Linked DNA regions of Homo sapiens. The protein of the gene in region 2 binds, or shares a complex with, the protein of the main gene of each other region. Each region holds a gene or a part of one and is shown on either strand. Other genes may lie near its edges. The genes, in order: BRIP1, TOPBP1, PHF8 and GINS1. A codon is read from its position in the direction of its gene.

The links.
Region 1: the proteins of TOPBP1 (region 2) and BRIP1 are in contact, whole or in part, in a crystal structure (PDB 3AL3), measured with the Homo sapiens proteins. Residues at the interface, in NP_008958.2 of Homo sapiens: Leu1272, Ser1273, Ser1274, Leu1275, Asn1276, Pro1277, Arg1280, Gln1298, His1311, Leu1313, Arg1314, Asn1315, Glu1316, Lys1317, Leu1319, Gln1366, Arg1407, Gly1410, Phe1411, Leu1414, Thr1466, Glu1467, Ile1469, Ala1470; in NP_114432.2 of Homo sapiens: Ser1129, Tyr1131, Phe1132, Thr1133, Pro1134, Glu1135, Leu1136, Tyr1137, Asp1138.
Region 3: the proteins of TOPBP1 (region 2) and PHF8 are in contact, whole or in part, in a crystal structure (PDB 7CMZ), measured with the Homo sapiens proteins. Residues at the interface, in NP_008958.2 of Homo sapiens: Gln1298, Cys1299, Arg1314, Asn1315, Glu1316, Leu1319, Arg1369, Ser1406, Arg1407, Gly1410, Phe1411, Arg1413, Leu1414, Arg1465, Thr1466, Glu1467, Ala1470, Asp1471, Gln1475, Asn1483 (codon at 1,662), Tyr1484 (codon at 1,659); in NP_001171825.1 of Homo sapiens: Gly842, Ala843, Cys844, Phe845, Asp847, Ala848, Tyr850, Ile851, Tyr852, Pro853, Ser854, Leu855, Glu856.
Region 4: the proteins of TOPBP1 (region 2) and GINS1 are in contact, whole or in part, in a cryo-EM structure (PDB 8OK2), measured with the Homo sapiens proteins. Residues at the interface, in NP_008958.2 of Homo sapiens: Leu490, Leu491, Ser492, Gln493, Tyr494, Glu495, Asn496, Leu586, Ser587, Arg588, Thr589, Val590, Val596, Cys601, Glu602, Val603, Ala605, Thr606, Val607, Gly608, Val610, Lys629, Pro636, Val637, Pro638, Val639, Met640, Thr641, Arg726; in NP_066545.3 of Homo sapiens: Asn43 (codon at 3,860), Gln44 (codon at 3,857), Val47 (codon at 3,848), Asn48 (codon at 596), Lys51 (codon at 587), His66 (codon at 542), Arg91, Tyr94, Gly95, Ser96, Asn100, Arg103, Phe104, Arg119, Ala122, Met125, Glu132, Gly133, Leu134, Asp135, Thr137, Gln138, Asp139.

Annotation. Positions count from the first base shown.
Region 1 is NC_000017.11:61,860,527-61,867,491, forward strand, and holds the start of BRIP1 (Fanconi anemia group J protein), read right to left. Parts: upstream 3,003-6,965; 5' UTR 2,758-3,002; exon of another isoform or gene 1,384-2,757; intron 1,044-1,383; 5' UTR 1,014-1,043; coding exon 921-1,013; intron 1-920. UniProt on the Homo sapiens protein: DNA-dependent ATPase and 5'-3' DNA helicase required for the maintenance of chromosomal stability. Acts late in the Fanconi anemia pathway, after FANCD2 ubiquitination.
Region 2 is NC_000003.12:133,599,711-133,602,949, forward strand, and holds the end of TOPBP1 (DNA topoisomerase 2-binding protein 1), read right to left. Parts: intron 1,684-3,239; coding exon 1,540-1,683; 3' UTR 528-1,539; downstream 1-527. UniProt on the Homo sapiens protein: Scaffold protein that acts as a key protein-protein adapter in DNA replication and DNA repair. Composed of multiple BRCT domains, which specifically recognize and bind phosphorylated proteins, bringing proteins together into functional combinations.
Region 3 is NC_000023.11:54,041,462-54,048,730, reverse strand, and holds the start of PHF8 (histone lysine demethylase PHF8), read left to right. Parts: upstream 1-4,257; 5' UTR 4,258-4,969; exon of another isoform or gene 4,970-5,620; intron 5,621-5,910; coding exon of another isoform or gene 5,911-6,002; coding exon 6,003-6,100; intron 6,101-7,269. UniProt on the Homo sapiens protein: Histone lysine demethylase with selectivity for the di- and monomethyl states that plays a key role cell cycle progression, rDNA transcription and brain development.
Region 4 is NC_000020.11:25,410,666-25,417,700, reverse strand, and holds part of GINS1 (DNA replication complex GINS protein PSF1), read right to left. Parts: intron 6,585-7,035; exon of another isoform or gene 6,415-6,584; intron 3,912-6,414; coding exon 3,847-3,911; intron 598-3,846; coding exon 499-597; intron 1-498. UniProt on the Homo sapiens protein: Required for correct functioning of the GINS complex, a complex that plays an essential role in the initiation of DNA replication, and progression of DNA replication forks.

The DNA.
Region 1 (6,965 bases), on a different chromosome or scaffold from region 2:
GCGCATCCCTGTAATCCCAGCTACTGGGGAGGCTGAGGCAGGAGAATAGCTTCAGCCTGGGAGGCAGGGGTTGCAGTGAGCCAAGATCGCGCCACTGCACTCCAATCTGGGCGACAGAGTGAGACGCTGTCTCAAAAACAAAAAGAAAAAAGGAAGTTCACAGCAGCATTGTTTGTAACTGCAAAAGAATGTAAACAACCTAAATGTCTACCAATAAGAAAATGGACAGATAAATTCTGGTATATTCATCCAATGGAATTTATACAACAATTAAAATGGATTAAGAATCAACAGGGCTATACATTAAAAATAATGCTAAGTTAAAAAACTCAAGTTCTGCATAAAAAGTAAGGTACCGTATCACATCAATGCACAGTTTCAAATATGTAAAATAATATTCTATATTGTTTATGGATACATATATATGTAATAAAAGTATAAAAACATGGCTAGGAAAGGAAAAGAACAAATTCAGGATACTAATAATCTTGTTACCAGTAAATAAGATATGAAGTACATATGGCAAAATAGCTGTAACAAAACTGGAAAGCTGGTTTACTCAAATTTGTATATTAATTTTCTACATGATCCAAACAAAACAATGGTGAGAAAAATAGTATTCTGTGTAAAAGATAGTAAATACTCTGTTTTTACTTAAAAGTATAGCAGTTTTTCATTAAAAGTATAGAAATTCCAAATGAGCTGAGAACATTTTTCAGAATGTTCTTCTTTGCCTTAACCACAGATATATACAGTTTAGCTGCAATCAGTAGTTTCCCAGAGGTTAGATATTCTTCCAAGTGAACCCAGAAAATATTCTCCATTTACTGAGAATATGAATGCAGTCAAATACTCAATGTACTTTATGGGTCATAAGTATCTATATCTTAATAAAAACTTAACTGCTGAAAAATACTTACAGAATTCATCATAGCAAGCTGTGACGGGTAAGCTTTATAAGGAAAGTAAATCTTCACCCCACCAATTGTATATTCAGACCACATTGAAGACATAGTGCTTTCCTGTTTATTTCAGATTCCTAACTACAACAGAAATGAAAATGTCAAATATTGAGACACGCCTTACAAAGAAAACCAGAGAACCAAAACTAAGGGAGAAATCTGGAAACAGAAACTGGAATTAATAAAAGTATAAACAAAACAAATGGAAACAAAATAATTTCCTAGTCTTATAAATCACAGCGGTCAAGAGCATGTCTTAGAGTCTAACAAATCTAGATTTGTATCCTTCACTCTGCCAGGTATTAGTTGTGTGACTTCGGGAAAGTTAGTTACCTTCTCTAAGCCACAGTGACTGCATGTACCCCATAGGATTGTGGTAATGATTAAGTGAAATAATGTGCAAATATGATAAAGTACATACCAGATTAAACATGAGCTCTTGTAACAGTTAGATCAGATGTAATCAACCTACAGAAACAAATAAGTTCCTGAGGCCTCTCTCTCTACAACTCCGTAGCATCACTCTTTCTCCAGTTCTTCCCCTTTGTGTTACCCCTTTCTGCAGTCCTCCAGTTAGAAGAAAAAAGCTGTTGACCAGAAGTCAGGAAGCATAGGTTCTATACCAGGTTTTGGTATACTGCCTGGTATGTTATCTTTGACTCAGGTATGTTATCTTTGACATATCTTTTTACTTCTCTAGTCTAAGATCCTTACCTGTGATAACCCCTAATTTAATTTAAAGGCTGTTATAAGAAAGAGAATGCCTTGGCACATAGTAGGCACTCAAAAATGTTATTTGAAGATCAGTAGAGTATTATAGAAACAGGATGGGCTTTGGAGTAAGGCAATCCTAAGTTTGAATTCCACTGTGTGAATCACTTAACTTCTCAGAGCTTGTTTCTCCATATATGGAATTGAAATACTACTACTTACCTGACAGGGTTTTTATGAAAATTAGCCAGGGCAGAATGTACCTAACCCAGGATCTGATACAGATGAGGATCACTTTAATCCTCACCTCTTCTAAACCACTTTTCTTAACCTAGGATCCACGGATGTAATTCAGAGACAATGACCTCTTGAAATTGCAAGCATAAGTTTCTGTACATGATTGCATTTTTCTGAAGAAAAAGTCCATAGATTTCTCTTCCCGTAAATATATCTCAAGGAAATCAAAATAGCGGGGGAAATTACATGCACTGTTATTAAATAAGGAATTATTTGCAGTCGTGGGAAAAAATTGTAAATTCAACCTGGGGACGAAGAGATGGTTAAAATAGCAATTCAATAGATTATGAAGCCAATAATAACATTCACCACTGCTTGTGTGCTCCAAAAGAAGAACCATTATTCTAGGGTATTTTCCAGCTCTAACATTTTGCGATTCTATCTGTAAAGCTCTGAGAATGAGGTATGGTGGAATCTAACCTCTTAATATGAATCAACAACTCAACGCTGGCCTAGTTACTCAGATATAATCTAGAAATCAGCCCGTCCTGTACCCCGGCTGTGGCAACAATAGTGTCAAAATGGGGTAGCTTCCCCCAAACATTGCATAAAGGATAAACACACCCCTCTGCCTCCCGCCAAGAATTAACGCAGCGCCCGGGCTAAGAACAGGCCTGCGCTCAAAGGAGGTAAGGATAGGCTCCCTCCTCAGGTTTTCTGCCCCGTATCTCCCTCCTCCCCCAGCCAGTTGAGATCCCCGAGACCCTGGTGATCCAGTCACCACCCATGGGCCCGCAGGCTGTGCAGAAGAACTCAAGCCCTTTCCGTGGACTTCCCTCCGACTTGCCTGTCTGGAGGGAAACCGAAGCAACGCTCTGAGCTCCGATTCACTGAAGAAAAGGAAAGGAAACCGACTTCTGAGAGCAAATAAAGCGGAGCCCTGGAAGAGAAGAAAGGGCACGAGCCCTTCCTCCTCCCTCTTCCTGGGGGTGCTGCTACTTCCCCGGCCTTGTGTGCAGGACTGGGGCCGCCGTTACCTTTCCTCGACCCACCAGACCCCTCAACCACACAACCCGAGACGAATTCCCGCCTCCCGCCCCCTCGACTCCCAGCGCCCAATAGCCCAGCGAGCTCGACCAATCACCCGCCAAGGCCAGGAATCAACCAGTCCCGGTGCGAGGTGAGGGGGCGAGAACTTCGGCATCCAATGGAAGTCTCCGAAAAAAAAAAAAAAAAACAAGGGCTCAAGGTACGCGGCGGAAGGTTGTCGCCACTCCAGCAAATCCCTAGTGTTTGTTTAAAGTAGAAAGTCGTCTCAGTTTGACTTTTGAAACCGGCGATAGAGTCTATGCAGCAAATTCCTTGGAAACTGGAAGTCTCATTCTTCACGTCCGTAGACCAGCGGAAAGGAAGTATCTTTAAGCTTTGCCAAGTTCTTTGAGCATTTATCAGTGCCACTCAATTTAAATTACCCAGCTTTGCAGTAGCCAGGATAGCGAAGACTCAGGCGGGAATTGCCAGACTGCTGAGCCAAACTTAAGTAAGAAGGCTCTGTGACATCGGGCTACAATCTATCTTTCATAATATTCAAGGCTTTCCCGGATGCTAAAATAAGCCAGAGACAAGCTCTCAGGGTCTCCAGTATCAGATCACTTCTACTTCCATTAAGGCTTATCCGCCTTCCATCCCTCCTAAGACCAGTTTATTATTTGCCAGTAGTACTTTAATTTACTCAAAGAAAAGGAGGTTCATCATGATCTTGCCAAATCATGTTATTTTTTTAAAAAATCTGTATAACCTAAACTTGGCTCAAATAATAATGTCTCCAAAAGGCAAAACCTCATACTGTTTCTCAAATTCAAGTAACTAGTTTGGGGAAGGAGTTTGCTGGGAAGAAAGAGCAGGAGGGGGCTAGTTGATTTGTTTGCCTCATTGTCAATTGTGATATATCTTACCAAAAATGACAAAACTTGTAGTCATAAAAATAAACTCTACCCTTTGACCTAGTAATCTGAGCTCCAGATATTTATCCTAAAGACGTAATCTAAACGAAAGAAAATGTGATACCGCAATTGACAATAATATCTATTGGTAATACTGAAAAAAATTATGAACTTCCCAGTCTAGTAATATGGAGGTGGTTATGACAGATGAATTCAATACATTATGAAGCCAATAAACTTATAAAAATTAAACTTGCAAGAAAAAATCCCATATAAGGTTAAGTGAAAAAAGGCAAAGCAAACCCCAAACTGGGTGTTAGGGATTCAGTAATGTGAAAATACATATGAATGAGCAAAGATGAAGTAATTTACTGTTAAGACAATGAAAGGAAGGATAATGTTTAAAAATAAATCCTTAAAAATACCTTCAAATTGTCATTTCTCTTTTATAATTTTTAAAACATCAACTCTTGGCCGGGCGCAGTGGCTCACGCCTGTAATCCCAGCACTTTGGGAGGCCGAGGCAGGCGGATCACCAGGTCAGGAGACCAAGACCATCCTGGCTAACACGGTGAAACCCCGTCTCTACTAAAAATACAAAAAATTAGCCGGGCGTGGTGGCGGGCGCCTGTAGTCCCAGCTACTCGGGAGACTGAGGCAGGAGAATGGCGTGAACCCAGGAGGCGGAGCTTGCAGTGAGCCGAGATGGCGCCACTGCACTCCAGCCTGGGAGACAGAGCGAGACTCCGTCTCAAAAAAAAAAAAAATCAACTCTTTTGAGTAACTGCTCTAGTATAACTACTCTCATTTTCCTCTCCTAAATTACTAAGAGTTTCAACTGGCTCTCACCTTGCATTGCCATTTAATGTATGTGGCATAACAGAAAGGGATACACGTAGGCCCTGGAGCCATACAGACCTCGAATACAGTCCCTTGAACCGTTCCCTTCAGGTTAACTCTAGTGGAATGAAACACAAAAACTACAGGTTCGTTTGATAAAGAATATGAATGTTTATAAACCAATATTCAAAATAGCTGCACACATCTGTTTTCACTTGAATAAAAAAACACATTGTGACAAATTTTATAACCTTAACTTAAAATACATGAATATTAACATTTACTAATATATTTACACATTTTATTTACATCATCAACAAATCTGATGAAAAAGAGCATATGTGATTATTTTAACACAGCAGGTTATGACCAGTCTTTGAATATTGATCCAGGAATGTGCACTGCATTTAATTAGAAAACATACTTTTAACTTTTTCTGAACTCCTAGGGCATATCTATTCACACAAAATATCGCAAGGCCTCAGTTTAAAAAAAAAAGGAGCAGTTGTATTTAATCTTAAGGGACTACAAAACTGCCTTGTTTAAAAATATGAAAATTCTTATGCTATTTTTAAGATACTTTTATTACTTTTATTTTTCACATCAAAATTACTTAATTGAACATTAAGCATCTAATAAAAAGTTATAAATATTCTATCACATGTGATACTATGCACTTCATGATTTGAAACAGCTACAAACTCATTCTCATAGAATATGAGGTAGGGCCAGTAGTAACCCCATTTTACAAAGGAAGAAAATGAGATGTGACTATTTACTAGTGAAAAGGCTAAAGTTAAATTTCATTTCTCAAAAACTACACCTTCTTATTAGCCTAATTTCTTTTACAAGTGAAGCGGTCTGGCCAGGTGCGGTGGCTCACACCTGTAATCCCAGCACTTTGGGAGGCCAAGGTGGGCAGATCACCTGAGGCCAGGAGTTCAAAACCAGTCTGGGCAACATGGCAAACCCCCGTCTTTACTAAAAATACAAAAATACAGGTGGCGCGTGCCTGCAGTCCCAGCTACTCAGGAGGTTGAGGCACGAGAATCCCTTGAACCCAGGTGGCAGAAGTTGCAGTGAGCCAAGATCATCCCACTGCACTCCAGCCTGGGCAACAGGGGAAGACTCCACCTCAGGAAAAAAAAAAAAAAAACACAAGTGAAGAGGTCTGTTTCAAGTGGGGGTGGGGAAGTGTGTGATTGAGGTATATCTCAGAGAGAAAAAAGGGAATTACTTTCTACATTGATAATTTTTTTTTAATGATTAGGGTTTACCTGAATATGTCTGCCTAATCAATGGAAGTTACTGACAGAGGACTGCAAAATCCTTCGGCAAGACAATATTTTCTACACTTTAACTTTTCCTCAGGTTCAAACACTGCATTTTCTTACTCAAAGATCTTCTCAAAGTAAGATATGAATTATAATCCTGATGACAAACCAAGAGCTCTTTAATCCAGTGGGTTTTATTGCTCTACCTTCATTTAATTTGATACATATTTCCCCCCTCTGAGCATTAGGTAAGTTAATAAAGCATTATAAAAATAAATTTAAAACATAAAACTAAATGAGATCTCTCAGGTTCTTCTTTGAACAAAGATGTTTCTGTAAACACTTTTACACCAGTATCTTAAAATTCCAAATTATTCAAGTATCTCTTTAAACATATGGCTTCATATATTAATAAAAATTGAAGCAAATATGTGAAATCTTTAAATCCTCATCTGTATTTCCACAGAAATCATTTACAAAAGCTACTTGCCTTTTTAAAAGTCTTCTCAATACTCTTTCTTGAGAACTAGAATTCCAACTTGCATTACTATTACTTGCACTGCAAATCTTTGAGATTTCTACTTGTGTTTTTAACTCCTATTATTTCCTTAATTCTCCTTTCCCTTTACCCTTTTTTCCTCTCCCATCTTTGCATCTTTGTCACATTCTGTTACAAGCTCACAGTTAAAATAAACACTAGGGCTACCCACAGACTCATTTTTATAAGAAATTAAAGGCATGGCAGTCTTCACTTCAAAAGCTAAATACAAGGCCAAATTCCCTTTCCAATAATGAGTTTCTTACATGTGTTCCCAGTGGAAAAAAAAAAAGCTCAGCTGCTACAATAGAAACATATCAGCAAAGTAGATCCAAAGATGTGCCAATCAGAAACAAGCAAGCATAATTCTCATAAAGTTCTAAACTATACTCATGTTGAATTGAATTGTTTTAGTGATTCCAAGACAATACTTTACTGTTCCCATTCAGTTTAGAGTTGT
Region 2 (3,239 bases):
GAATTGAACGGTTTACATCAAAATTACATTCCTAACGGATTCTAGTTTGTCCTTAAAATGAAATTAGGTGTATTTATAGAGAATTCTGGTAACGCATGTAGTATTAGGTGTTTAGGTTTAGCATAATAAAGGCTAATGCAATACAGAGTTCCAATAACAGTATGTTTTAATCTAATAGGGCAATATTCTAAATAACAAATATCAGAAATGTTAAGCAATTCATTTATTTTTTTTGAGACAGGGTCTCATTCTGTCACCCAGGCTGGAGTTGCAGTGGCATGATTTCAGCTCACTGCAACCTCTGCCTCCTGAGTTCAAGTAATTCTCATGCCTCAGCCTCCCAAGTAGCTGGGACTACAAGCATCAAACAGCATGCCCGGCTAATTTTTTGCTATTTTTTGCAGAGATGGGGTTTCGCCATGTTGTCCAGGCTGGTCTTGAACTTCTGGGTTCAAGCAGTCCACCCACCTTGGCCTCCCAAAGTGGTGGGATTACAAGCATGAGCCACCGTGCCTGGCCTGCAATTCTTTTTTTTTTTTTTTTTGAGATGGAGTTTCGCTCTTGTTGCCCAGGCTGGAGTGCAATGGCGCGATCTCAGCTCACCGCAACCTCCGCCTCCCGGGTTCAAGCGATTCTCCTGCCTCAGCCTCCTGAGTAGCTGGGATTACAGGCATGTGCCACCACACTGGGCTAATTTTTTGTATTTTTAGTACAGATGAGGTTTCTCCATGTTGGTCAGGCTGGTCTCAAACTCCCGACCTCAGACGATCCGCCTGCCTCAGCCTCCCAAAGTGCTGGGATTACAGGCACGAGCCACCGCACCCAGGCCCCTGCAATTCATTTTTTACGTTACATAAATGTTTTGTTGCTTCAACAGAAGAACAGATGCCAGGGTGCTCTTTTAAAAAATTTATCTATGTAAACACATCTTAATACTAATTTGAGTTACTACTTTTATTCTTTATTGTCACATTTTCCAAGTTTTGCGCATTCAAACTTGGCAAACATCATGGAGATTTGTACAAACATACATATACATATATACACACATATTTATAGCCCCAGCTTCCTCATTAAACCTTGTGCTCAGGCTCCTGTTAAAAGAGGTAAAATGGTGAGAAGATAAAAATCAGGGAAAACATGAATAAATGCTGACTGACAAATCTTGTTGTTATGAATTTGTAAGGCAGACATTTTAAAGCAAAATCCATTACCTTGCTAAAATTTCCACTAAGCTACAGCTTCAGATATTTACAAGAAAAATAAATATCTTTTAACAGACTTCAATGTGGTTTAACAGCAAGCTAGCTGAGGAGTTGTATTTTGTTGTTATTTCAGGTAACTTTTTATTAAGAAACAGTTAATATTTCAGTGATTACAATTTCAGGTGTTCAAAACTCAAGAAGGGTCATCATTATACTCTGAAGCAGAATTCTTCAGGTACTCATCTTTAAATTACTACCCAAATCTATCACAGTCACATTCAGGCTTTCAATTTTTAAAAACATTTAATGTTTGGTAACTAAAGGGTAGATGCGATTAGTGTACTCTAGGTCGTTTGATTTTATTTTTTTCTGTAGGAGCTTTCCTCTTTTGTGATAATCCAGTCCCAAGTTCCTTATTATTCTGAATAAATGAAATAGCTTCTGGTAGACAGTAATTTTCTACATGAGGAGGTGATTCCTATAAAAGGAAAAATAAGTGATTTTTTAAAATGATTTCAAACATTTACGTGATCTGGTAATAGATTTTTTCTTTAAATCTCAGACCTCTCAGGGATGAATCTGACAAACTTAAAGGAAAACGCATATTCATTCCTAGGTTCCAGCAAATTAAACAAAATGGACCCTGTGGGACAAAGTCTCACCTTTTATCAAAGAAATACGTGTATGGTTCAGGTAGAGTGGGACTAGCTCAGATCTTACAAACATTTCATATCGGTGTTTTTAATCCCCATTTTTGAGATAAAATAAAAAAGGTTAAATGAAAACAACCAATGTCACATAACTAGCAGGTAGCAAAGCCAAATTTCATAACTGATCTGACTCCAAAACCCTTGCATTTTCCCCCCACAACCATTTCCCAACATAGAAATGGATCTTTTCCTCCTTATTATAAGTGTAATAAAACTTAATTTTCTAGCAATATGGCAGACTGGGCAACCTGAAAATGAATCACCACAAAATACCAAGTAAGTGCCTTTTGATTCAATTCTTCCATGGATAACAGCTACAAATTCTGACCAAAATATATTAAAAGCAACCATAGAGCCTGGAGAATAAACGAACCAAGCAAATGGGGGGCTGGGGACGCAAACACAGTGTATGAAGTAAACTGCCTGTTAAACAACACAGTACTCTTTGGAGGAGCAAAGGAACAATAGAACCTAGAGTTTCTTTTTTAGGGGGAGATAAGGGTCTTGCTGTGTTGCCCAGGCTGGTGGCTGGTCTCAAAAATGACACATTGAATACAAGGGAACAATTCAAATGACCATCACTGATTTCTCAACAGAAACAATGGAGGCCAGCAGACAGTGAAGTCTTTAATAGAAGAAAAAAACCTGTCAATCTATAATTCTGTATCCTGCAAAACTGTCCTTCAACAATGAAGGTAGAATAGACATTTCATACAACAGAAAGCTAGAATTGATCCCCAATCAACCTGCACTCCAAACTAAAGTTAGTTCTTCAGGCTGAAGGAAAATGTTATCAGATGGAAACTCAGATCTTCAGGGAAAACTGACACTCAAACTGGTATACATGAGGGTAATTATAAAATACCATTTTTTATTTTAGTTTCCTCAAAATGCACAGAATTGTTAAAAGCAAAACCTATTTAAAGTAAAATCTTATTTGGGGCTATAAGATGTAGATGTAAAATATATGACAACTACTGCATAAAGCAGAGGTCAGCACACTTTCTGTAAAGGCTCAGACAGAAACATTTTAGATTTTGTGGGATAGATGATTTGTGCTGAAACTACTTAACTCTGCCATTATAGTGCAAAAGCAGCCATAGAAAATACATAAATGAATGAGTATGGCTGTTTTCCAACAAACCTTTATTTATAAAATAGGCAGTGGGCCAGGTTTGGCCAGGTGGCTATAGTTTACTGACCCCTGGTATAAAGGACAGGGGAAGCAAATGAACCAACTTGGATGCAAGAGATCTACCTTTTTTCATTTTTTTTTTTTTTTTTTTTGAGACAGAGTTTCGCTCTTGTCACCTAGGCTGGAGTG
Region 3 (7,269 bases), on a different chromosome or scaffold from region 2:
CCTGGTGCTGTGGCAGCCAGGTCCCATCATGGGCTGCATCCTCTGAGACTGGACCAGTCCACACATTTCCAGGGCAGCAGCCAGCTGCCTCCCATCCTTAGCAGTGGCAAGACTTGCTTTGTCAGCAAATCTGACTGCCTCTGGTTCAGACCCCTGGCAGCTTTGCCTTTCCTAATATCCTTTGTCCACTCCCCACCTCTCAAGGACACTGGGGAGGAATTTTAGGAGTCGGGGTAGGAACCACTGTACCTAGGTCCAATGCTACCTCTTGTGAAGCCTTTCCTCACACACCCACTGAATGTGTTTGAATTAACTGTGACTGCCTCTTTGTTCCCACACCACACAGGTTGCTCAAACCTCTATGTAGCACTTAGGGTTTGACCTTTTCCAGCCTCCTTGTTTTGTTAATTTATTAGATCGTCTATTCCCTAAGGGTACACACAGGGTCTCTAATTCAGGCTTGGAGACCCTGACCCCCACCTGTAGCCCACCCAGTCCTCTTGCCCCCATCTTAGGGCTTTAGCACTTTTTTTTTTTTTTTTGAGATGGAGTCTTGCTCTGTCGCCCAGGCTGGAGTGCAGTGGCACAATCTCGGCTCACCGCAAGCTCTGCCTCCCGGGTTCACGCGATTCTCCTGCCTCAGCCTCCTGAGTAGCTGGGACTACAGGCACGTGCCACCACACCCAGCTAATTTTTTGTATTTTTAGTAGAGATGGGGTTTCACCATGTTGGCCAGGATGGTCTGGATCTCTTGACCTCGTGATCCACCCGCCTCGGCCTCCCAAAGTGCTGAGATTACAGGCGTGAGCCACCACACCCGGCCAACACTTTTGATTCCTTTTGCCTTTGTCCCTAGCTAGCTCTTTTTGTTATTCAGGTCTCAGCTCCTGTCACCTTCTCTGAGAACCCTTCCTTGACTACCTTATCTAAAATAGACTGCTTTCCTTTCAAATCATTCTCTATCTCATAACTGGTCTTACTTTCCTGATAGCACTCACCTCAATTGGAAATTCTCTGATTTGCCTCACTTTTTATCCGTCTCCCTTGCTGGAAATGAGTCACAGGAGGGCGGGGACTTGTCTGTTTTGTTTACCCCTAAATCCCCAGTGCCTAACAGTAGGTGTTCAAGAAAATATGTGAATGAAATTCACATATTAATGAAATTTTATTTGATCATTGACTGTTTCCGCCAGTAGACTGTCAGCTGCATGCAGGCCAGGGCCTTATCTGGGGTACCTCAACATCCTCAGCACCTAGCACAGTGCATGATGCATAGTAGATTAATAAAGAACTGTTGGGTGAGGGAATTAATGTTCCACACACACCTGAACTCAACATAGTCCAAATTAAATTTAGTCTCCTCCCCACCAAATCTGTTTTCTCTTCTGCGTAGCCCAGTTCATTCAGTGGCACCGTCATCTATGCTGACACTCAACCCAGAAGTGAACTCACACCCCTTTCACTCACTCATCTGCTATTATCAGTTTCCAAACACTGCCTAGTCAACCTCCAAAATATCCAAATTATCTCATCTTTTTCTACCCTTTCCCAAACTATCCTGGACCAATTTTTTCCCCCCAACACTAGTGAAACAGCCTCATTCCTCCTGACTCCTTGTGAAGCTAAGACATCTTAAACTGCAGGACCTGTCACTTTCCATAGGGTCACATGGTGATGTGTTTTATAAAGTTCACAAAATACATTTAAACAACAATTGGTTCAAAGTGCTGTCCCTTTCCACTGAGGGCCTGGCCATACTTTCCCTTGCATTAGGTGGTGTTGGAGCTGCCTGACATTTTTGAGATCCACCTAAGGGGAAGTTGATTTGGGGGATATATTTAGGTTGGGTTTCATGGGATATTTGTTATTTAAAAATTCATTTTATTTTTATTTTGTAGAGACAGGGTTTCACTATGTTGCCCAGCCTGGTCTTGAACTCCTGGGCTCAAGTGATCCTCCCATCCTGACCTCCCAAAGTGCTGGGATTACAGACATGCAATCTGCACCCGGCCCCATGGTACATTTACATGTGCCTTGTATCACTTCTCTTCGTAATTATTACCCAGGTGAAGGAATTGCTTGTAGAAATACTCTTACTGCCTACCTTTGAACCTAATTTTGTATTCATAAGTCATTTTTTTTTTTTTTGAGATGGAGTCTCGCTCTGTCACCCAGGCTGGACTGCAATGACACAGTCTCGGATCACTGCAACCTCCGCCTCCCGTGTTCAAGCGATTCTCCTGCCTCAGCCTCCTGTGTACGTGGGACTGCAGGCATGTGCCACCACACACGGCTAATATTTTTATTTTTAGTAGATATGGCGTTTCACCATGTTGGCCAGGCTGGTCTCGAACTCCTGAACTTGTGATCCGCCCGCCTCGGCCTCCCAAAGTGCTAGGATTACAGACATGAGCCACCGCGCCCGGCTATTTTTTTCTTAAAGACGTCTCACCCTTCCTCCCCCAAACCATATAAGCTTCAGGTCCCATTAAACCTGGACCTTTCAGTGCAGTGGCTCAGGCCTGTAATCCCAGCGCTTTTAGAGGATCTGAAACCAGGAGTTTGAGACCAGCCTGAGCAATATAGCGAGGCCTGGGCTCTATAAAAAATAAAAAATAACCGAGTGTGGTGGTGTGCGCCTATAGTCTCAGTTACTCATGAGGCTCTGGCGGAAGGACCGCTTGAGTCCAGGAGTTCTAGGGTGCAGTGAGCTATGACCGCCCAGCCTGAGTTGACAGAGTGAGACCTTGTCTCTAAAACAACAAACATAAAAAAAAAAAAAAACCCTAAACCATCCTCTGGGTAAGTCACAAATATGAGACTAAGCTACCCCTGCTCAAAAACCTGTGTTTTCTTTTTGCTAACTGCATACAATCTAAACTCTTTTGCATTTCGCAATCTTTCATGTTGTGACCCTTTACTGTTTGACCTCCTACCTATCTCTCTTCTGTTTTCCTTGTTCCAACAATATTCAACTTCTAGTAAATATTTTTCTATGTGCCTCCATGCATTTGTACACGTTGATCCTTTTGAGTACAATGTTCTCGCTTGTTTATTTAAGTGAACTTAATCGTCCATGTCCCCCTGCCGTCTTTCTTACAGCAGCTGCAAGCAGCTTGTAAGGCTCTTTTGTAGCTTCATGTTGCATTTTGCAAAGGTCATTTTGCAGGTGGTATTTGTGTGCTTACTGTGCCTTCTATTCCAATTGTTTACTCGCAACTTTGTTTCCTGCACTGGCAGATGCCCTCCCACTCCAGAGGCCCTGTTTTCACCATTGCATCCCCAGGGCCTACCCCACCATCACTGGTTAGTAAATTGTGTGCACGCACACATTTCCTTTTTAAAGCAATGGGACCCTTTAAGAAAATGAAATAGTAAGATAACTCCTAGAGAATTTTCTAGAATGTTTGAGAAAACCTAGGCCATCTTGAAGCATATGTACGAAGCTCCACTAACTCAGCAAAGCTCCACTAACTCAGCCTTTCCTCTCATCCCCCCTCCTCTCCCCTCCCCTCAGGCTATAGTCAGAAAATTGTGGGACAGGTGCAAACAAATCCTTGAACTGTATTTGAACTGAAGTGAAACAGTAGGGTCAAAGAAGAGTTCAGAGGGAGTTGTGGAGTTGGCAGCAGCTTTACAGAGGAACTACACTGAGGGCCTGGGGACAGAACGCGGGTAGCACAGGGCACAAGGTTCAACGTCCCTGCTCCGGGACTCAAGTCACTTGGCTTCTCGAAGCCCCTGCCTTCATTTGGTGATAATCACAGAGCTTCCTTCACAGGGGGAAGAACCAACAACGCAGAGACCGTGGGAAAGAGCCCAGCCTATCGAAGGTGCTCAATGAACAGGAGCCGCGGTGAGTACTCCGCCTCTACCCCGGCTGAAGCCCGCCCCCGCCGCCACCTATTAATTTTGTAGTTTGGAGTCACCGAGTTCACCTCCTCTCATAGGAGGAGAAGGCTGGGGAGGAGGAGTGTGCGAGTCGGGGTAGCTGAACTCCCTGTTTGCCCGGAGGAGGGGGAAGGCTAGGAAGTTTCGGGCCCCACTCAAAATGGAGCCAAACGTCTGCCTCGCCTAAGATGGCGGCTTCTCCGCCTCTGGGCTCAAGGTCTTCAGCGGCGATTGGGCACCTTAAAGAGACGAGCGGGTCCAAAGGTGGCTGAGAACCGCCCTCCTTTCTCAAGGTGGCGCCCCGCCCCCCCGATGACGTCACCCGGGAGCCGGCGGCTCGCGGTTCCCCGCCTCCGCCGCGCTCACCTCGCGAGTCCAGCCCTCATAAGATGGCGGTCGCCTTGGTTGTCTGGGTAGCGCCGCCACTCTCAACATGGTAGCTGTTTATCCCGTATTTCTCCTCCCCTCTCCGCCTCAACTTCCTCATTGTTTTGAATAAACTTTATTGACTACTCCGAATTGCCTACCACCGCCACTGGGCTTCTCCCAGCGACTTTTCGGGCCGTGTGCCTCGGACGTGGCGGCCGGTTCATCTCTTTCCCCGTTGGTTTGCTCGCGAGTATCTCCTGCCGGCCCAGCGACGACGCCACTTGCCCGTTCGCCGGGCGGCCGCCAGACTAGGCCCAAGCCGCGGTCTCCAGTAGGCCCGAACGGCCGGGCCGAGGGGAATGTTGTGGAGGAGGCTGCTCTGAAGCACCGTTGAGCGGCTGGCGCCGCGCGACCCAGCGGGGGGCTCGAGGGGAAGGCGAGCGAGGTTCCCGGCGGTACGGGGACTATCCCAGAATTCGACGCGCGTCGCCGTAGGGGCCGGAACTACCGGACGAGCCTCCGCTGAGGCGCTTCGCAGTCCCGGAGCTAGCCCGGCTGCCGGCGTGTCGCTGGGGCTGAGCTCCGCGGGCGTGGAGTCCTTGCAGCCCAAAGCATGAGGAGGTCCCTGTAGGATTCTGGACTGAAGACGTTCTTGTCAGGTTTGGGGCGTGAGGAGGTTCCTGTCAGTTGGGGAAGCGTTAAGATTCCTGTAAGTTTTGGGGGCTGCGAGGCTATTACTGTCAGTTTTAGGATATACTGTGAGGTACCTGAACATTTGGGGAGACTAGGGAGCTCTCATCAGTTTGAGGGGGGGCTGCAAGGAAACGCTGCCAGTTTCCGAGCGATGCAAAAGAATCCTTGCTTAGTTTCGGGAGTGTGAGGAAATTCTAGTCAGTTTGAGGGGTTTTGAATAGATCCTTTTGAGTTTCAGGGATGCAGCCAGAACCCTGTCATCTTTAAAGTACAGAACGAGCTGGTCAGTTTAGAGATTTATATTTATTTCAGTTTTGGGGGTGATGAGACTCCTGACTGGTCGGGGAAGGAATGATATTGAGAGTGATGGAAAGGATTATTTAAACTCTCCGAACACGACCCCAGAACTGTGATTTGAGTTGGGCGCCTAGTCTTGTCTGTCTTGTTCGTGAAGGCTTTGAGTAACCTGAAGAGACTTTCAGGGATCCCTTATCTCTCTCTGGTTGGCCCTATTTCAGGTGGTGAGAGGAGGGTCTTGTCTTGAGATACCCCCAGCCTCATTTTTGACGCTGTGGTTTGCGTCATAATAGAGGGAGCCCTGTGAAACAGGGGTCAGCTAGGGGAGGGTTCAGTGAGAGATGAAAGAAGCTTCCCGAAAAGGCTTCAGGTATTTTCTTGAAACCCGGAAAGAAGTTATCACTGACAACGGGGCCGAAGAAGGTGGGGGGTGGGGAGTGGAGAGTGTGGGGGCGGTGGGAAGCCTGGAAGGTTGAGCTCCGTTCTTTACGTGTGAAAGAAATTCTAAGGGCCGGGTGGACTTTCTCTGGTTGCCCCCTACAGCCGCACCAGCTGTGTTGCATCCCGGCGGCGGTAACTCTATTGGAGAACTGAGGGTTGGTGCAAGGGGGTGGGGGGCGGGGGCTGATTCACTCTGTAAAAAGTGTTATTTGTGCCTAGCTATCGTCCAGAGAGGACGCGTGCTGCCGCCTCCCGCCCCTCTTGACACGACGAACCTGGCCGGCCGCAGAACGCTCCAGGGCCGAGCGAAGATGGCCTCGGTGCCGGTGTATTGCCTCTGCCGGCTGCCTTACGATGTGACCCGCTTCATGATCGAGTGTGACATGTGCCAGGACTGGTTTCATGGCAGGTAAGGAGGGCAGGCCAGGCTACACAGGGTGCGGTGGCCAGGTGTGTTCACTTGCTCTCTCTTCCTTTCTCAGCTCTGTTTTTAGATTCCGGCTCAGGACCCCCTCTCCCAGACTCAGGTTCTGCCATCTCTCCTTGCAGAACAGGACCTAGCTGACATTAGCCTCTGGTTTCTCCTTTTCCTGTGTTTTCCCCTATGTATTTCTTCTTTGCACTTTTCTTTTGAGTGTTTTTTTAGATTTATAAGACCCCCCCCCCCTTTTCTTTCCTGTTACAAAGAATCATTTTTATATTCTTCTCTATTTTATTTTTTATTTTGTTTTATTTTTTTCGAGACGGAGTTTCGCTCGTTGCCCAGGCTGGAGTGCAATGGCGCGATCTCGGCTCACAGCAACCTCTGCCTCCCAGGTTCAAGCGATTTTCCTGCCCCAGCCTCCAAGTAGCTGAGATTACAGGCATGCACCACCACACCCAGCTGATTTTGTATTTTTAGTAGAGACGGTGTTTTTCCATGTTGATCAGGCTGGTCTGGAACTCCCGACCTCTGGAGATCTGCCTGCCTCGGCCTCCCAAAGTGCTGGGATTACAGGCGTGAGCCACCGTGCCCGGTCATCATTTTTATAGTCTGACAATTATGTTCTGCCTCACACACTGGCTTTTGGGAAAACAGTGTTGCTTATTTGAGGTAGTTGAGTCCATAAACAGGGATTTAAGTTGTGGCTTTGTACTTAGTTTCAGAGTGACCATGCACAAGTTGCTTTGCTTTTCTGAGCCTCATTGTCTTCAGCTATAAAATGTTATCAAATACATCCTTTCTGACTTTGCAAAGCAGTTTGGATGTACTCCATAAATGGAGGCAGAAATGGAAGAGTATTTTATTTCTACAGCATTTATCTGCAGCACCATCCAACTAAATTGAATTAAGCAGAATAGATGCTGGGTAAAACAGGAGTAAAACCACTGATGAATTTCCTTCAGTTAACCGTGTGTGCACATAAGCACCTGTCACCCAGAATTCCGGAGAGGTTAGTGTGTACGATAAAACTAATATTTCATTAATGGGATTTAAATCTCAGCTATGGAAAGACAACCTTGAGGGGGCTTTGTACACTGGAGCACAACAAAACAGTGTATGGCACCCTCCTCCTGTTGCTTGTTAGATTCTAGAAT
Region 4 (7,035 bases), on a different chromosome or scaffold from region 2:
TATTTTTAGTAGAGACAGGGTTTCACCATGTTGGCCAGGCTGGTCTCGAACTCCTGATCCCAGATGATCCACCCGCCTTGGCCTCCAAAATTGCTGGGATTATAGGCATGAGCCACTGTGCCTGGCCAAAGGTCCTTATTTCTAAGACAAAGAAAAAATAGTAAGAACACTACCGTATTCAGTAGTGAAAGACCGTGATGCACTTAAATAGTGTGGCACCAACAAGTGAAACACGATGAAAAAAATATGGCAAAATAATAAAAATTGTTAAAACCATATGATAGCTCCACTGGGGTTCATTATAGTATTATTCTCCCTACTTTTAAAAGTGTTGTGATTTTTCATAATAAAAAATTAAAAAAATGAAAACACAGAGGAAAAATTTAGAATGCTTACAAAGAGAGAGAGATCTAAGATTTCATGTTACCCATTTGAGATGGTCAACTGGGAAGCCACACAGAAAATCCTGCCACCCCAAGCAAAAACTGAGAAGCTTACAGGTATGCTACAGTGCAGCGTCGATTTCTTAACAGAGAACAGTGTCGAAATTTGATAGTTGGTATCAAATCACTTCGTCCACCTGACTTTGCTTCATTCCTGATAGGAGCATTTAAAAAGAAAAAAAATATGTACTTTTCAGGATAAGTAAAATTTTCAAAGCCAACTAACAACTGAGTTACATGCTTGTTTTTAATCCATTTGTGATTAGCAGTTAACCTAAGCAAATAATAACTATTTGTACATCAGAGCTTTTATTAATATGTTAAAAAGCCAAAACCTAAACAACTTGCCTAAGATCATGCTACCAGATACATTTTGTTTAGGCATTTGGTACTTTGCATTTTTGCACACTGATTAATCTCTATTCTTTCTAAAAGACACTGTGTTATTCACTTTTCAGGATTCCATTATCACGCTGAGATAAGAGACAAAGCTAACATGATGGACATGAGGTTATGGTCTTACGTCATGTCGCTATTCTACATAGTACCTCCCTTCCAGTGGAGCTTCCAAATCCTCATTATAACAAAGTGAGGTAAAATGGAGTCAAAATGGTCTTTCACTCATCTTACAAATATCTGTTGATCTCCAAATACGTGTACGTACTATACTTCAGTATTTCTCACACTGAAAATTTTGGTTTTACCCTATAAAAAGTACATGTAACTTTTGAATGAATAAGAATCTACTTTGGAGTTTTTAAGCAACCATATGCATATAAAAAGAATTCATTCATGTAGTGCCTGCCTCTATGCCAGGCACTGTGCTAGGCCCTGATAATACAGGCAAAATACATGTCCCATCCTGTCATGTCTTCTAGGGCTGTTCTATATACTTCTGCCACCCTATGAAAGTCTGATGAAACTAGGAAGGTGGAATAAAGAATTTTGGATCATGAATTTGCGAATGGCATAAACACAGAGAATACAAGAAAATCATTCCCTTACTGAACCAAGGCCTATAGGGTCTCCTCCAAAACATTTATAACCTTCTCACTTTCTACCAAGTCTGGGTCACCTCTCTAGTAACCTGGTGACCAGCTTCCCCCACCTCTCAGCCCCTCCACACAGCAACCAGCATTATCTTTTAAGACACAAACACACCACCACCTGTCCACACTTACACCTCATCTGGTGTCATCCTTTGCCACTTGCCAAACTCCAGCCACATAGGTCTTCTTTAAGTGTCAGTTTCTTGAGTGCCCCATTCTCTTCCATGATTCAGGGGCTTTTGCATATGCTGTTCCCTCCACCTAGAATGTTCTATGCCCACAGTCACTGCCTCCCTAAGACTTGCATCTCCTGCAGGCCTCAGCTGAAATGTCTCCTCTTTGGAGAGAAGTTCCCTGATTCCTCAATTTAAGCTAGACCTTCTATTCATTTTTCTTTCTCCTTGCACTCTTCTGATTTCCTTCATAGCATGAATCCCAATTTGGCATATCTATATTTCATGTCTGTCTTCTGCACTAGACAGTGAGCGCCAGGGACAGGCATCTTTTTTTTTTTTTTTTTTTTGAGATGGAGTTTCGCTATTGTTGCCCAAGCTGGAGTGCAATGACGCGATCTCGACTCACCACAACCTCCGCCTCCCAGGTTCAAGCGATTCTCCTGCCTCAACCTCCGGAGTAGCTGGGATTACAGGCATGCGCCACCACGCATGGCTAATTTTGTATTTTTCGTAGACAGGGTTTCACCATGTTGGTCAGGCTGGTCTCGAGCTCCTGACCTCAGATGATCCACCCGCCTCGGCCTCCCAAAGTGCTGGGACTACAGGCATGGGCCACACTGTGCCCAGCCCGGGAAAGCCATCTTGACTGTTGTTTACCACTGAAATAGCACAGCCACTTATTGATACATATTTGTTTAGTACATATTTGAGTAAATCAATGAATGGCTTAGGGACTTGAGTTCAGGACTTTAAATCTGCCTTATATTTACTGCAAATCTGTTGAGGTTCACTTCCTCAGTCCACCTGTAAAGATTTTTCTGTATCTCTCCTTATACACAGGAGTTGGAAATGCTCCTATCATTTTATGTGCCTCACAAATCTTACCAGCCATAACACTGATTTCTATATTCAAGTAACTGATAAAAACACTGTAGCGAACAAGCCCAAAGAGGAAACCTCATGTCACAGACAGTTGAGACCCTGAATACTTCAACTTTGATCCAGTACTTGACTCCCTTTGGTGTCGCACAGGAACATACGAAGTTTGTCATACGCCCAAATTCTCCACTGTGCCAGCTACCATGCTCAGTTCTAAAGAGTCAATAAATCTAGTCACCTCTCTGGACCTACTACACTGAAACCTTTTATAGCTAGTTCTCAGAGAACTCCACTCAAACTATCAGAAATCACTGCTGCTCCTATTTATATCCATTTAATAAACTGCCTATTCTTCCTTTAACAAACTCACTAAGGCAACTGTTGATAAAAATATAAACAGTGGGAACCATGTATTTCACTTTGTTAGGTTTTTATTTTTATTTATTATTTTTAAAGATGGAGATCTCCTTCTGTCACCCAGGCTAGGGTGCAGTAACGTGATCATAGCTCACTGCAGCCTCAAACCCCTGCACTCAAGCAAGCCTCTCACCTTACCCTGCTGAGTAGCTAAGACTCCAGGTGTGTGCCACCACACCCAGCTAATTTTTATTTTTTTAATAGAGACAGAGTCCTGCTATATGTCCAGGCTCCTGGCCTCAACTGATCCTTTTGCCTTGGCCTCCCAAAGCACAGGGATTTATAGCCATGAGCCACCGTGTCCAGCCTATTTTTATTTTTTATTTTAGGGTATGTCATTTATTTTAGGTCCACTCTAATTCCTTTCAACTCTTATCAGCCAAACAACAGATATTTATTAAGCAGTGATCAGCACAAATTTCTTCAGACTTTTGCTAATTTGTACAGCTAGAGCAGATAATTTTACAGATAATTTTTAAAAATCGCATCCCAAAACTAATGCAAGGTTATCTGATTTCAACATCTTTTTTTTTTTTTTTTTTTTTTTGGAGACAGAGTCTTGCCCTATCGCCAGGCTGGAGTGAAGTGGTGCAATCTCAGCTCACTGCAACCTCCACCTCCCGGGTACAAACAGTTCTCCTGCCTCAGCCTCCTGAGTAGCTGGGATTACAGGCACCCACTACCACACCCGGTTAATTTTTGTATTTTTAGTAGAGACAAGGTTTCACCATGTTGGCCAAGCTGATCTCAAACTCCTGACCTCGTAATCCGCCCGCCTCAGCCTCCCAAAGTGCTGGGATTACAGGCGTGAGCCACCGCGCCCGGCCAATTTCAACATCTTAATTATTGAATTGTTTTAGAATATCATCTTATGAAACTTACACATCAGACTGGTTTTGTTCATACAAAGCTTTCATCTCCTCCAGAACTTGTCTGAGTCCATCCTCCTAGAACATATAAACCGATATTGAAATCCACTGATTTCCCCACCAATTCTGTGGCAATATGCTATCAATACTGAACTGTATCTTTCATTTATATACTTTAGCAAAAAGCAATAGTCCTTTCACACCCCACTAGCATGGTTATAACAAGTGTTGGTGAGATGCGGAGAAACTGGAACCCTCGTACATTGCTGGTGGGAATGTAAAACGGTATAGCCCTGTGGGCAAAAACTTGACAGTTCCTCAAAAGCTACACACAGAATTACCATATGACTCAGTAATTTTACTCCTAGGTGTATATATATACTCAAGAAAACAGAAAACACATGTTTTTTGCAGCATTATTCATAACAATAAAAATGTAGAAACAACCCAAACGTCCATCAAATGATAGATGGATAAACCTTCCACTTATCTGAAAAATCTAATATAATAAAAAGAATGGGTCAAGGGTGGTGGCTCATGCCTGTAATCCCAGCGCTTTGGAAGGCTGAGGCGGGTGGATCACCTGAGGTCAGAAGTTCAAAACCAGCCTGGTCAACATGGTGAAACCCCGTCTCTCCTAAATATACAAAAATTAGCCAGGCGTGGTGACAGGCTGTAATCCCAGCTATTCAGGAGGCTGAGGCAGGGGAAATCGCTTGAACCCGGGTTGCAATGAGCCAAGATCATGCCATTGCACTCCAGCCTGAGCAACAAGAGCGAAACTTCGTCTCAAAGAAAAAAAAAAAAAAAATGAACTACTGACAACATACACAACAATGAGGATAATCTGAAATACGTTATACTGAGCAAGAGATGCCTGACACAAGAGTTTACATGAAATGATTCCCTCTGGCCCTTCACAGGAAAAGTTTGCCAAAAAGAATAATATCATCTGTAGTCAGAGAAAGCAAATTCATGGTTGCCTAAGGCTATAGGTGGGAGGTAGCTACAAAAGGGGGGCAAAGTTACAGAAATCTTTTTTAATTTTTTTATTTTTGTGGGTACACAGTAGGTATGTATATTTATGGGTTATATGAGATATTTTGATAATTACAGAAATCTTGATCAGGGTGCTGGTTATAAAGATGTACATATTAGTCAAAATTCAAAAATCTATTAAAATACACATGTTGTATGTAAATTATACATCAATAAAATTGACGAACAAAGATATCAATCGTCCTACTGAAGCATGAGGTATAAAGAAAAATATGTAAATAATTCATAATTTACTAAAAAATGGTCTTTTTTTTTAGATGGAGTCTCACACTGTCGCCTGGGCTGGAGTGCAATGGTGCAATCTCGGCTCACTGCAACCTCTGCCTCCTGGGTTCAAGCAATTCTCCTGTCTCAGCCTCCCGAGTAGCTGGGATTACAGGCGCCCACCACCACGCCTGGCTAATTTTTTGTATTTTTAGTAGAGACGGGGTTTCACTATATTGGCCAGGCTGGTCTTGAACTCCTGACCTCGGGTGATCCACCCGCCTCAGCCTCCCAAAGTGCTGGGATTACAGGGATGAGCCACTGGGCCCAGCTTAAAAGTGATCTTAAAAGGTTAATACCAAAAGAAAGAAAAAGGAATAGTGTTTTTGGTTTGCACTGCAAAAACCGGCCATAGGAGTTTTTCTAGTATCCAGTTTCGGGCAAATTTTCCCTTGGAAAAATAAAACATTAGAATTCTGATTTTTTTCGTTGTTGTTGAGATGAAGTCTCACTCTGTGGCCCAGGTTGGAGTGCAGTAGTGCGATCTCAGCTCACTGCAACCTCTGCCTCCCAGGTTTAAGTGATTCTCTTGCCTCAGCCTCTCGAGTAGCTGGGACTACAGGTGTGCACCAGCAATGCCCAGCTAATTTTTTTTTTTTTTGAGACGGAGTTTTGTTCTTGTCACCCAGGCTGGAGTACAATGGTGCAATCTTGGCTCACTGCAACCTCCGTCTCCCGGGTCCAAGCAATGATTCTCCTGCCTTAGCCTCTCAAGTAGCTGGGATTACAGGTGCCCATCACGTCCAGCTAATTTTTGTATTTTTAGTAGAGACAGGGTTTCACCATGTTCACCAGGTTGGTCTCGAACTCCTGACCTCAGGCAATCCACCCACCTCAGCCTCCCAAAGTGCTAGGATTACAGGTGTAAGCCACCAAGTCTGGCTAATTTTTGTAATCTTTTTTTTTTTGGTAGAGACAGGGTTTCGCCATGTTGGCCACACTGCTCTCAAACTCCTGACCTCAAGTGATCCGCCTGCCATGGTCTCCCAAAGTGCTGCGAGTACAGGCAGGAGCCACCGTGTCCAGCCCAAAATGATTAAATGTTACCCAATAGGTCTGCCAACAATCGAAAGAGAAGCAATCCCATCTCTTTTTCACTGTCTATTTTTAGGGCCAAAATATATGTGTTGGCAAAAATGCTGTGGCATATACAAATGGCACAATTCCAAAATCAACTACTCAACTCTGCTCAAAAGATGTAATTCCTGATGGAAAATGCAAGCATGACTTCTACCTGAGCCCAAGGTAATTTTCTTACCTTTTCCTTTTTGAGACAGGGATTCAGTCTGTCACCCAGGCTGGAGTGTAATAGCGTGACCACAGTTCACTGCAGTTTCAACTTCCTGGAGCCATGCAATCCTCTCACTTCAGCCTCCTAAGTTGCTGGGACTACAGGTGTGTGCCACCACACCCAGCTAATTCTATTTTTTGTAAAAATGGGGTCTCACTATGTTGCCCAGGCTAGTCTCGAACTCCTGGGCTCAAGTGTTCCTTCCACCTTGACCTCCCAAAGTGGTGGCTGGGATTACAGGCATGAGCCACCATGCTTGGCCTAACTTTCTTAAAAATGTACTTTTTAAAAAAAGTATCAATTCTGCATATAGAAAGGGTGTAATCACTTTTCTGTTTGCTGAACACAGCGCTTAACCATGAGTGATTCCAGAAGAAAAGCCTGTGTGTTGGGCCGGGCACGGTGGCTCACGCCTATAATCCCAGCACTTTGGGAGGCTGAGGTGGGTGGATCGCCTGAGGTCAGGAGTTCGAGACCAGCCCGGCCAAAATAGTGAAACCCCATCTCTACTAAAAATACATAAAATTATCTGGGCATGGTGGCAGGCGCCTGTAATCCCAGCTACTAGGGAAGCTGAGGCAGGAGAAT